2 linked regions of the Homo sapiens genome follow. The gene in region 2 interacts genetically with the main gene of each other region. Each region holds a gene or a part of one and is shown on either strand. Other genes may lie near its edges.

What was found.
Region 1: of MYBL2 (region 2) and CCNT1, changing one suppresses a phenotype caused by changing the other (phenotypic suppression), as found in Homo sapiens cells (one study listed by BioGRID).

What each region holds. Positions count from the first base shown.
Region 1 is NC_000012.12:48,713,557-48,721,101, forward strand, and holds the start of CCNT1 (cyclin-T1), read right to left. Parts: upstream 3,152-7,545; 5' UTR 3,120-3,151; coding exon 2,959-3,119; exon of another isoform or gene 2,729-2,958; intron 969-2,728; coding exon 887-968; intron 1-886. UniProt on the Homo sapiens protein: Regulatory subunit of the cyclin-dependent kinase pair (CDK9/cyclin-T1) complex, also called positive transcription elongation factor B (P-TEFb), which facilitates the transition from abortive to productive elongation by phosphorylating the CTD (C-terminal domain) of the large subunit of RNA polymerase II (RNA Pol II).
Region 2 is NC_000020.11:43,712,004-43,717,055, forward strand, and holds the end of MYBL2 (myb-related protein B), read left to right. Parts: intron 1-998; coding exon 999-1,103; intron 1,104-3,130; coding exon 3,131-3,280; intron 3,281-3,955; coding exon 3,956-4,084; 3' UTR 4,085-4,479; downstream 4,480-5,052. UniProt on the Homo sapiens protein: Transcription factor involved in the regulation of cell survival, proliferation, and differentiation. Transactivates the expression of the CLU gene.

The sequences.
Region 1 (7,545 bases), on a different chromosome or scaffold from region 2:
AAGGATCCCTTGAACCCTGGAGTTTGAGACCAGGCTGGACAACACAGGGAGACCCCATCTTCACAAAAAAAATTTTAAAAATTACCAGATATGTTGGCAAGCCTGTGGTCCCAGTTACTTGGGAGGCTACGGCAGGAGGACTGCTTGAGCCCAGAAGGTTAAGGCTGCAATGAGCCATAATCAAATCACTGCATTCCACCATGGACAACAGGGCAAGACCCTGCCTGTCTCCCTACCCCAGCAAGAAAAAGAAAGCTATACCTAAATTCCACATGATTTCCCCTTTAATGTTACTCCTCCAACCCCAAAATGTTGACTTTAGATGTCTGATAATCTGTTTTTTGGGGTTTTTTTTGAAGACAGGGTCTCACTCTGATGCCCAGGCTGGAGTGAAGCGACTCAATCTTGGCTCACTGCATCCTCAACTCCCTGAGTTCAAGCAATCCTCTTGCCAGCTGCTGGAGTAGCTGAGACCACAGATGCATACCACAACACCCAGCTACTTGCTTTTTGTTTTTGTTTTTGATATTTTGTAGAAATGAGGTCTCATTATGTTGCCCAGGCTGGTTTTGAACTCCTGGGCTCAAGTGATCCTCCCATCTCAGTCTCTCAAAGTGCTGGGATTACAGTTGTGAGCCACTGCACCCGGCCTAATCTACTTCTTTAGAGAATCGACATGGATATACTAAATCCACTAGACAAGTAGACACTTAACAGGAAAACTGAAAAGCTGGATTCAGAACAGCAACACAGCACATAATGGAAGTGATCAACCCTAAATTCTAAAGTTCAAGTTACAGTTCAGTAGCAAAGACCAACCACAAATGGAATAGGTAGGTGGAATCAATCACAAAAGGATTATATCATATAAAAAAATTATACTTACATTTCCAGGGAACTGTGTGAAGGACTGAATCATGTAGAATCGATGCATGTATACTATAGCAGTGTTGATAGTCAATTGTGAGCTGAAGTGTTCAAGTTAAGATCCAAAAACAGGCAGGTATAATTCTGGAAAAGATAACCTCTATCTCCCTCCCAAAAGGATGAAATGGCCAAGCAAGTAGATACTACTAAATGAAAATCATACTTATCTCTCCAAATCAAAGAATATGTCTGTTTTCTTTCACCAAATTATTAATCGCCAACTGACACTTAGCACAATGCCTTACACATAACAAATATTTAATATAAATGTACTGAATGAATAAACAAACATCTCAGGATGTATGAATCTAGACAGATTTTTTTAAAAACTATATAAGGCGGCCAGGCGCGGTGGCTCACACTCTGTCGCCCACACTGGAGTGCGGTGGCACCATCTTGGCCCACTGAAACCTCTACCTCCCAAATTCAAGCGATTCTCCTGCCTCAGCTTCCCCAGTAGCTGAGATTACAGGCGCCCACCAACAGACCTGGCTACTTTTTGTATTTTTAGTAGAGACATGGTTTCACCATGTTGGCCAGGCTGGTCTTGAACTCCTGGCCTCAACTGATCGACCTGCCTTGGCCTCCGAAAGTGCTGGTATTACAGGCGCGAGCCACCGCGCCTGGCTGACAACCTTAATGACAACACACATACAAAAAGGAAAGCATTTTAAGGATGCACTGAAATAGAATTTCGAACAAAAAGATTTAACTCCATACTGACAGGATGCTTAGGAAACAAACCTGGACATCAGCAGGAAACAAACTGGCGATAAAACAGACACCCATTTTGAGATGAACACACCCTTAAGATACACACATTACTGTCAGCCACACATTTAAATAGAAGCTGCACCCAAGAAAATTTTCACACGCAGAGTGGAAAGAAATTTAAAACTATACTAGTTTTCTCCACCATAAAATAAGTGTATTTCCTAACAAACAAAAATATGTGGGAGAGGTTACCTCATTTTTTTTTTAATTTTTTTTTTCTGAGACGGAGTTTCACTATTGTTGCCCAAGCTGGAGTGCAGTGGCGCCATCTCGGCTAACTGCAACCTCCGCCTCCCGGGTTCAAGCGATTTTCCTGCGTCGGCCTCCTGACTAGCTGGGATTACAGCTGCCCGCCACTACGCCGGGGTAATTTTTTGTATTTTTAGTAGAGACAGGGGTTTAATCATGTTGGCCAGGCTGGTCTCGAACTCCTGACCTCAGGTGATCCACCCGCCTCGGCCTCCCAAAGTGCAGAGATTACAGGCGTGAGCCACCGCATCCAGCCGTTACCTCATTTTTGAAAATGAAATACATATCATCACTCTAAGTAAGTTAAGGACCCGGTATTTTGTAAACTATTTAAAACATTAGATTCGTGGGTATCCCCTACAAACGTAAACTAACATCTTTCCTCTGAAATTCTATAAAACAGTAGCTACTAACTGAGCATCTGAATGCAAAGCACTGTGCTGGACACAGAATCAAACACAAGAGGTATTATCCCATTTTATAGACAAGACGGCCAAAAATTTGAGAGGTCACTTAAACAGCTAGTAGATGAGGAATGGATTTTGGACCAAGGCTGAGGCATTAATTCTAGTCCACCCTTTATAACACTTTCAGGTACTGAATTTCTCGAAATTTACACACTAGGTTTGGGAGGCAGCCGTCAACAGAGAAACCTCTGCCAGACCTAGACCCCTAGGGCACAGCGGAAAATGAGAATCTTAACGTCACCAGAGCAGATCAGAACACAATGAAGACAGAGTTGGAAGGGCTGGTTAAAACACAAAGCCGGGAAGGATACGAATTCCCAGCAAGGCTGGCGGCACGGGTGAGCGAGCGGGAAATCAACTCTGCCTCGCTTCCCTAGCGCTAACTGAGTTTCAGCCCGCCCCATCGTGGGCTCTCCCAACTAGACATCCAGCTTCTGCCCACCTTCTTCCCCACTTTCGTCCCCCCCACAGAGCCTGAGACCCGGACGCCAGAGCATGGCGGGACCAACTCCAAGGCCGAAGGCCTAGGCCACAAGGATACACGTTAAGACGCTGCCCCATGTCCTGAAGCAGATTGGCCGCCTGCTGGCGATAAGAAAGTTCTTTATCTGGGTCCACGCCAAAACGACGGGATGGGCTATTTTCCAGCTGTTCTCGAGTGAAATACCACCGTTTGTTGTTGTTCTTCCTCTCTCCCTCCATAGTGCTTCAACCAGAAGGCAGCGGCGAAGGCTGCAGGCACTTCCCAGCGTCACCTAAGAGGCGACCCACATCCGCTGTGCGGGGGCAACTGCGACTTGACGAACTTCCGCTAAGCGTCGACCGCCGGGTTGTTACTTGCCTCCGTAGAGGAAGCAAAAGTCAAAGGACCTACTTCCGGAATGCACCTCGCTACACCCCGTAGCCGAGTTAACAGCCAATATGCGACCAGAAAAAACCTTGAGGCGAGGACGCAGGCGCGTCACGTGACCGTTGGGCGGTGGAGTGGGGTTAGAAGTTCTTTCTTAAAAACCGTGTATCTTCCCGCGAGAACCGGATTGAGCGTTGGCGCCCCGGGTCAGGCTGCGAGGCCGCAATTATAGTGGGATGGGGCGGCCGCCCACGCGCCGCTTGGCGGTTCTTACGAGAACTTTGTTTGTGACGGCAGTGGTGATGTAAAATGGGGCAGATGGGCCGGGCGCGGTGGTTCACGCCTGTAATCCCAGCACTTTGGGAGCCCGAAGCGGGCGGATCACGAGGTCAGGAGTTCGAGACCAGCCTGGCCAATATGGTGAAACCCCCGTCTCTACTAAAAATACAAAATTAGCCGGCGTGGTGTCGCGCGCCTGTAGTCCCAGCTACTCGGGAAGCTGAGGCAGGAGAATCGCTTGAACCCGGGAGGCGGAGATCGCAGTGAGCCGAGATCACGCCACTGCACCCCAGCCTCCAGCCTGGGTGAGAAAGCGAGACTCCGTCTCAAAAAAATAAAATAAGTAAAAATGTGGCAGATGAACTTGAAAGAGAAAGTAGGTGAGGCTGTCAGAAACTGAAAAACAGAATCAAATGGTGGGGCTCTTTCGTATATCGGAGCATAAAGCAACTAGAAGGCTGTTACATTGTTGGTAGCAATGTAAAATGCGACAACCCATTTGGAGAGGTCGCTTTAATGTGTAGCCAAAGGCATGAAAACATTCTCACGTTGTTCGCCAGTGATCCAACTTAAAGGAATAAAATGAAATTAATAACATTAATTAAGAGCTTACATGTCCCAGGCACAATACTGACTTAAATATACTGTTTCATTTATTCAGCACAACTCTAAGAGGTAATTTTTAAGTACGTTTGCGAATGGGTGAACTAAAACTGCCCCTTGAGTGTGGAAAGCCTCCACCACTACCCCTCACTTGCACAGATTAGCAAGTTCTTGCCCTCTGTCAAAATATTTCCCAGCTCCTTTGCCGGGCGCGGTGGCTCAAGCCTATAATCCCAGCACTTTGGGAGGCCAAGGCGGGTGGATCACCTGAAGTCGGGAGTTCGAGACCAGCCTGGCCAACATGGTGAAACCTCATCTCTACTGAAAATACAAAAATTAGCCAGGCGTGGTGGCGCACGCCTGTACTCCCAGCTACTCGGGAGGCTGAGGCAGGAGAATCATTTGAACCCGGGAGGCAGAAGTTGCAGTGGGCCGAAATCGCGCCACTGCACTCCAGCCTGGGCAACATTGCGAGACTCCTTCTCAAAAAAAAAAAAAAAAAAAAAGATACATCCCAGCTCCAGCCTCTGATAACTGTTTGGTGCTGGGCAAGATAGTTAACTTCTCTATGCCTCTTTTCTGTGATAATACCTATGTTTTAGATAGTGAAAGGGAGTAAAGATTTAATGAGTAAAAAGTATTTATAATAGTACCTAGTACTTAGAAAATATTCAGTAGCCCTTATTGTTATAATATTTGTTACATTGTATTGAAATTGAAGGCAAGAGCAATGCCTTCATTTTTGTATGGCACTTACCTAGTAAAGCCCTGGCCCTAGTAAATAGTCCATAAATCTTTGTCAGATAAATGTGCAAAACACCCACAATACAGAAACTGAGGCTTTGGGAGTTTGCCCTCACTACACCACTAATAAGTGTAGATCTTAAATCTAATTCCATTGATCTTTCCATTCACGCAAGCTGTATTCCTGCTTTTCTGGAACCATATTCAGTTTACCTTGATTAAATATGGGTAATTTTAGATAGATTTGGATAATATTAGAATCCTTCATCTTGCTTTGATAATATTTTGGGTTTTGTCATTTCTAGGCATGGGTGATCTTACTATGCTTGATTGTCATTCATTCTCAGAAGTATTTCTTTCCATTCAGGTCACCTCTGCCATATACTGCCTGTAGTTAGTATTAGCTCCATTTTACCCTGGAGAAATTGAGGTTCAGGAAGATTTAAATGACTTACTTCTAGTTATAAAGTAAAAGAACTTGGGATTTCAAATTTCTTCCCTCACAGACTCTTTACTATTAAGAGAATAAGCACTTACAAAATAGATTTTTTAGTAGAATAAGCACTTTTTCAGTTATGTAGTCATGTATGTTATCTTTTGAACAGCTGTGTTAGTCCATTTTCACGCTGCTGATAAAGACAAACCCAAGACTGGGCAATTTACAAAGGAAAGAAGTTTAATGGAGAACTCACAGTTCCACGTGGCTGGGGAAGCCTCACAATCATGGCGGAAGGCAAGGAGGAGCAAGTGACATCTTACATGGATGACAGCAGGCAAACAGAGAGCTTGTGCAGGCAAACTCCCATTTTTTTAAAACCATCAGATCTCATGAGACTCATTCACTATCATGAGAACAGCACAGGAAAGACCCACCCCCATAATTCAATCACCTCCCACCGGGTTCCTCCTACCATATGTGGAAATTGTGGGAGTTGCAATTCAAGATGAGATTTGGGTAGGGACACAGTGCCAAACCATATCATTCCGCCCCCAGCCCCTCCCAAATCTCATGTCCTCACATTTCAAAATACAGTCATGCCTTCCCCACAGTCCCCCAAAGTCTCAACTCATTTCAGCATTAACTCAGAAGTCCACAGTCCAAAGTCTCATCCGAGACAAGCAAGTTCCTTCCACCTATGAGCCTGTAAAATCAAAAGCAAGTTAGTTACTTCATAGATACAATGGTGGTACAGGCATTGGGTAAATACAACCATGCCAAATGGGAGAAATTGGCCAAAACAAAGGGGCTACAGGCCCCATGCAAGTCCGAAATCCAGCAGGGCAGTCGAATCTTAAAACTCCAAGATGATCCCCTTTGACTCCCTGTCTCACATCCAGGTCACACTGATCCAAGAGGTGGGTCCCCATGGTCTTGGGCATCTCTGCCCCTGTGGCTTTGAAGGGTACAGCCTCCCTCCTATCTCCCTTTCCAGGCTGGCATTGACTGTTTGTGGCTTTTCCAGGTAAATGGTGCAAGCTGTCAATGGAGCTACCATTCTGGGATCCGGAGGACCATGGCCCTCTTCTCACAGCTCCATGAGGCAGTGGCCCAGTAGGGATTCTGTGTGGGGGCTCCAACCCCACATTTCTCTTCCACACTGCCCTAGCAGAGATTCTCCATGAGTGCCCTGCCCCTGCAACAAACTTCTGCCTGGGCATCCAGATGTTTCCATACATCTTCTGAAATCTAGGCGGAGGTTCCCAAAGCCCAATTCCTGACTTCTGTGCACTCACAGGCTCAACACCATGTGGAAGCTGCCAAGGCTTGGGGCTTGCACCTCTGAAATCACAGCCCAAGCTCTGTGTTGGCCACTTTCAGCCATGGCTGGAGTGGCTGGGATGCAGGGCACCAACTCCCTAGGTGGCACACAGCACACATGGGGACCTTGGGCCTGGCCCACGAAGCCATTTTCTCCTAGACCTCTGGGCCTGTGATGGGAGGGGCTGCCATGAAGGCCTCTGACATGCCCTGGAGACATTTTCCCCATTGTCTTGGGTATTAACATTCAGCTTCTCTTTAGTTATGCAGATTTCCTCAGAAAATGGGTTTTTCTTTTCTATCACGTCAGGCTGCAAATTTTTCAAACATTTATGTTCTGCTTCCCTTATAAAACTGAATGCTTTTAACAGCACCCAAGTCACCTCTTGAATGCTTTGCTGGTTAGAAATTTCTTCGGCCAGACACCCTAAATCATCTCTCTCAAGTTCAAAATTCCACAAATCTCTAGGATGGGCAAAATGCTGCCAGTCTGTTTGCTAAAATATAACAAGAGTCACCTTTGCTCCAGTTCCCGACAAGTTCCTCATATCCATCTGATACCACCTCAGCCTGGACCTTATTGTCTATATCACTATCAGGCTTTTGGTCAAAGCCATTCAACAAGTCTCTAGGAAGTTTGAAAATTTCCCACATTTTCCTCTCTTCTTCTGAGCCCTCTAAACTGTTTCAACTTCTGCCTGTTACCCAGTTCCAAAGTCACTTCCACATTTTTGGGTATCTTTTCATCAACACCCCACTCCTGGTACCAATTTACTGTATTAGTCCATTTTCACACTGCTGATAAAGACACACCCAAGACTGGGCAATTTACAAAGGAAAGAGGTTTAATGGAGAACTCACAATTCCACATGGCTGAAGGCAAGGAGGAGCAA
Region 2 (5,052 bases):
GGAATCTTTTGGGTGGAGGCGAGGCGGTCGGGATGAGCCAGCCAGGCCAGGCAGTGCCTGGCTGAGTGTCAAGCTGCATGAGCTGGGGGTGGGGGAGTGGGTTCAGGTGAGGTGGAGTCTGCAGGGGCTCCTGGGCAGGGGGGCAGGGAAGGGACTGTCCCAAGCCTCCGTTCTATGCCAGCCTCCCTCCCACTGCGTCGTTAGCTTTCATGACAGTGCGCGATCCCTTCGAGTCTCCTAGTGCTCCTTTTTCCCAGACTGCTCTCCTCAAGGGAGAGCTGGGAACGGTGGGATGTACAGGGTGTTAGGTAAGGAGGGGAGGTGGGCGGTCAGCCTGGGCGGGACTTGCCCGAGCTGGCACCCCATGTGCACGTGGAGAGAACTTGGCCTCTGGCCTCCAGGGTCCTCCCTGGCCTCTCCTTGGTGGGGATGGTTGTGAGCCATGGCAGCCCCTGCTGAGTGCACTGTTGGGTAGAGTGGGGATGTGACTCTCAGAGCCGCTCCCTGGTATCGGAGCAGGCCCTGGACCTGCTTCTGTGAGGTGCACGGTTAGGAATGGGGCGTTCCTTGATTGTATTAGGCATTGTAGAGGGGCTTGTCCTGAGGGGTTTGTGTTCCCATATTACTGGCCTGTGGGTGCTATTTTAGGTGTTACTGGGGTGATTCTCTGCTGGGCCTGTTTGAGGGGCTGTGTCTGGTCCATTCGGGGTGAGAACAGGTCACTTCGTGGTGGAGGTTCATGCTGTGTTCCTGCTCACTGTCGCAGCACCTGGCAGGATAGGGTCTACCTTGGGTACAGAGTCTAATGGGGCCATGGGGCCTAACTTTCCCAGCCACCCCATTCTTCTGACAGCAGATTCCCACTAGCTGGGCCTTGCTCCAAGTCTGCACTGCAGCAGGGCCTGGTTTTGTGACCATCCATGGCCATGACCATCCAGGTGCTGACCATGGGGAATCCAGACACTCACCCTAACCCCCTTCTATCTGCCAACCCCTAGCTGCGGCGGAGCCCCATCAAGAAAGTCCGGAAGTCTCTGGCTCTTGACATTGTGGATGAGGATGTGAAGCTGATGATGTCCACACTGCCCAAGTCTCTATCCTTGGTAAGGCTTCTGCTCCTTGGAACTGTTGAGTTTTGGAGAGGACCCTCAAGGTGGAGTTAGTGTAGTGACTCTCCAACTGGGCTTCTGGAACCCTGGGCTCTGCAGGGAGGGGCTATCAGGGAGGGTGGGTCCGGGCACCCACTCATGGCTTCAGTCAGCAGCTCTGCTTGTCTCTCACAGAAGGTTTTGTTTGGCAGAGTTGCGCGGCTAGGACATGTTTTAAAAACATGCATCTGGGTCTCCTGCGCTCTCCCAGAGAGGGTCAGTGATGTGTCTTTTTTTTTCTTTTTTTTTTTTTGAATTGGAATTTCGCTCTTGTTGCCCAGGCTGGAGTGCAATGGTGCCATCTCGGCTCACTGCAACCTCCGTCTCCCGAGTTCAAGTTGTTCTCCTGCCTCAGCCTCCCAAGTAGCTGGGATTACAGGCATGCATCACCACGCCCGGCTAATTTTGTATCTTTAGTAGAGACGGGGTTTCTCCATGTTGGTCAGGCTGGTCTCGAACTCCCCACCTCAGGTGATCTGCCTGCCTCGGCCTCCCAGAGTGCTGGGATTACAGGCGTGAGTCACCGTGCCCAGCCTAGTAATGTGTCTTAAGGTATAGCCAGGCACTTGGGCACATTAGTCCTGGGATGGGTGCTATACAGCCCCCAGGCCAGTGGACTTGCTGTGCCGGGTGCTACAGTGAGGTCGACCTCAGAAAGGGGGTTGTTGCCTGTGCAGAGCCTGGGTCCCCAGAAGCCAGGGTGTGCTGCTGATCCCTCTCTGCTCACAATGGGGTGAGTTGGCTTGCCCTGGCTCAGAGTGGGGAGGCGGTGAGAGGCATGGCGGCGTCATGAACAAAGGTTAAGGGTTGCCTGATCTTCCAAGTAGACTGCTGCCCTCACGGTCCTTGCAGAGAAACCTTGTCCTGGCTAGGGGTCTCTGACAGGCTGGGGACCTGCAGCCAGGTTACTGCAAAGAAAAAAACATCACCGCAGGGAGTGAAGAGCACAGATTGAGTCAGGTGGGCCTGGGTTTGAGTTATGACACCATCACTGCTCTCTGGGATCTTTCAGGTTCCCTGAGCCCCAGTTAAAAGCCTATAAAAGGGGTGCCAAGCCTAAGTCAGGAGGGCACAGTGCCAAGCAGAGCAGAGAGACTGGAAGGGCGTGGGAGGGGCTTTGTGCAACTCCGCTGTGCTTGGGGTTGAAGCTGCGTCTTTATGATGCTTGTGGATGTTTCTGGTCCCAGGAAAACTAGGAACAGCCTTGGCTCCTCCTGAGGCTTTATGTGACAAAGCCAACGTTATTGAGTATGTTATTACTGGATAATGCTCAGTGATACTCCACATTTATTGATTATGTTATTATGGCCTGGGGGCTGCACGGCACCCATCCCAGGGCTGATGTGCCCCCACGTACTTGACTGTGCCTCCAGACACACCACTGAATCAGGCTCTGAAACGCACACACGTTTCTTTACTTGATTACTTGATTTTTTTTTTTTAAGTAAGAAAGTTCTTTAGAACAAGATTAAGTTCTTTGCTTAATTTTTTTTTGAGACGGAGTCTGGCTCTGTCTCCCAGGCTGGAATGCAGTGGTGCAATCTCGGCTCACTGCAAGCTCCACCTCCTCCCAGGTTCGCACCATTCTTCTGCCTCAGCCTCCCAAGTAGCTGGGACAACAGGCGCCCACCACCACACCCAGCTAATTTTTGTGTTTTTAGTAGAGACGGGGTTTCACCCTGTTGACCAGGATGGTCTCGATCTCTTGACCTCGTGATCCGCCTGCCTCGGCCTCCCAAAGTGCTGGGATTACAGGCGTGAGCCACCGCTCCTGGCCCTTTGCTTAATCTTTTAAGTATAAAGTAAGCTTAAGCTCATGTAAACTCCCTATCTGAAAGCAGAAACTGAGGCTTGGAAAAGTGTGTATCCTCTTTCAGGTCTCAGCAGCCAGGTGGTGGTGCTGGGGTGGGATTGCGGGTTTTTTTCTTCCCTCTCACAGCTTCTCGCAAAATGGTGACTCCTTGACTTGGTTTTGGTTTCAGCCGACAACTGCCCCTTCAAACTCTTCCAGCCTCACCCTGTCAGGTATCAAAGAAGACAACAGCTTGCTCAACCAGGGCTTCTTGCAGGCCAAGCCCGAGAAGGCAGCAGTGGCCCAGAAGCCCCGAAGCCACTTCACGACACCTGCCCCTGTGAGTGCTGTGGCCATCTCTGGGGGTCCTGCAGTGCCCGCCTTCTTAGCTCAGGGCTGAGTGCTGGCCATCCCTGGGGGTCCTGCAGTGCCCGCCTTCTTAGCTCAGGGCCTTTGCATAGGCTGTTCCTCTGCCTGGGTGCTTTTCCTGCTACTTCCCGTGGCTGCATTTGCTTAACTTACTCTTCTGATTTCAGTCTCAATGCTGCTTCCTTAGGGGTAAGCCTTCTCTGACCCTACATTCTGTAGAGATACCCCCATTCTGCCATTCTCTCTTTTGTGGCCTGGGTTTCACTTGTAACTAAGTCATTATCCCTGTATTTGGTTTGCTTAGTACATGTCTGTCCTCAAGCAGGGGCTGGCTTCAGGCTGCTGACCCGTCTCACTGCTCCTTCTCACCCGCCTCCTGGCTGTGGCTTCTCCTCGAGGCTGGTGCTGCACGGGGCGGGCAGTGCATGGCCATGTCTCCTTGTCCAGCGTCCTACTTACAGTTGAGGAAGCCCACAGCCAGGAAGTGACTTGTCCAGGGTCACAGGGAATGTGGAGAGAGAATAAGAAGGCTCTGGCTTCTAGGGGAGGGAGGCTTATAACTCTACCCTTCCCTGGCCAGGATCACCAGGGTCTGTTGGGAACACATAGTCCCTGCCTGGATGGTAACCCTCTTGCCTCCTCCCAGATGTCCAGTGCCTGGAAGACGGTGGCCTGCGGGGGGACCAGGGACCAGCTTTTCATGCAGGAGAAAGCCCGGCAGCTCCTGGGCCGCCTGAAGCCCAGCCACACATCTCGGACCCTCATCTTGTCCTGAGGTGTTGAGGGTGTCACGAGCCCATTCTCATGTTTACAGGGGTTGTGGGGGCAGAGGGGGTCTGTGAATCTGAGAGTCATTCAGGTGACCTCCTGCAGGGAGCCTTCTGCCACCAGCCCCTCCCCAGACTCTCAGGTGGAGGCAACAGGGCCATGTGCTGCCCTGTTGCCGAGCCCAGCTGTGGGCGGCTCCTGGTGCTAACAACAAAGTTCCACTTCCAGGTCTGCCTGGTTCCCTCCCCAAGGCCACAGGGAGCTCCGTCAGCTTCTCCCAAGCCCACGTCAGGCCTGGCCTCATCTCAGACCCTGCTTAGGATGGGGGATGTGGCCAGGGGTGCTCCTGTGCTCACCCTCTCTTGGTGCATTTTTTTGGAAGAATAAAATTGCCTCTCTCTTTGTGCTGGTCTGGACTCTGCCTCTCTACTGGGCCCTGCTCATGGTTCCCTGGTGACCTAGGGGCCTCTTCTGGGATATAGGGACCTGAATGCTCATCCTCAGAGGCCAGCCTTATCGGCACAGCCCAGGCCTGAGCCCTTGACCCTGTTTCCACAGAGGGGCACAATGAGATGAGAGCAATTTCTCTCGTCTCTGCACCCAGTGGGCATCTCTGCAAAGCTCTGAGTATTAATAGCCATGGGGTTGGGCGGGGGTGGGCAGAGACTGGGGGCGGAGGAGGACGATGGGTTGGTGCAGTAGGGCCTTGCCTGGCCCTTGCCTTGGGTGGCTCACCTGCCCATTAACAAGCCCCTGCCTCAAGCTGAGCGTGGCCCCCAGGTCAGACCAGTAAGCAAGGAAGAGGGGTGAAGGCAGCTGGGCAGAACCCTCTAGCCCCATTGGCCAAGGCTGAGCAGGAGGCCAGGATGGGCCAGAGCCTCTGCCCTTGTGGCCCTAAATCCCTAGGGTTGTGGCTACAGAGCACAGTGCTTGGCAGGTGGTTGGGAAGAGTCACTGGGGATTGAAGAGGGGAAG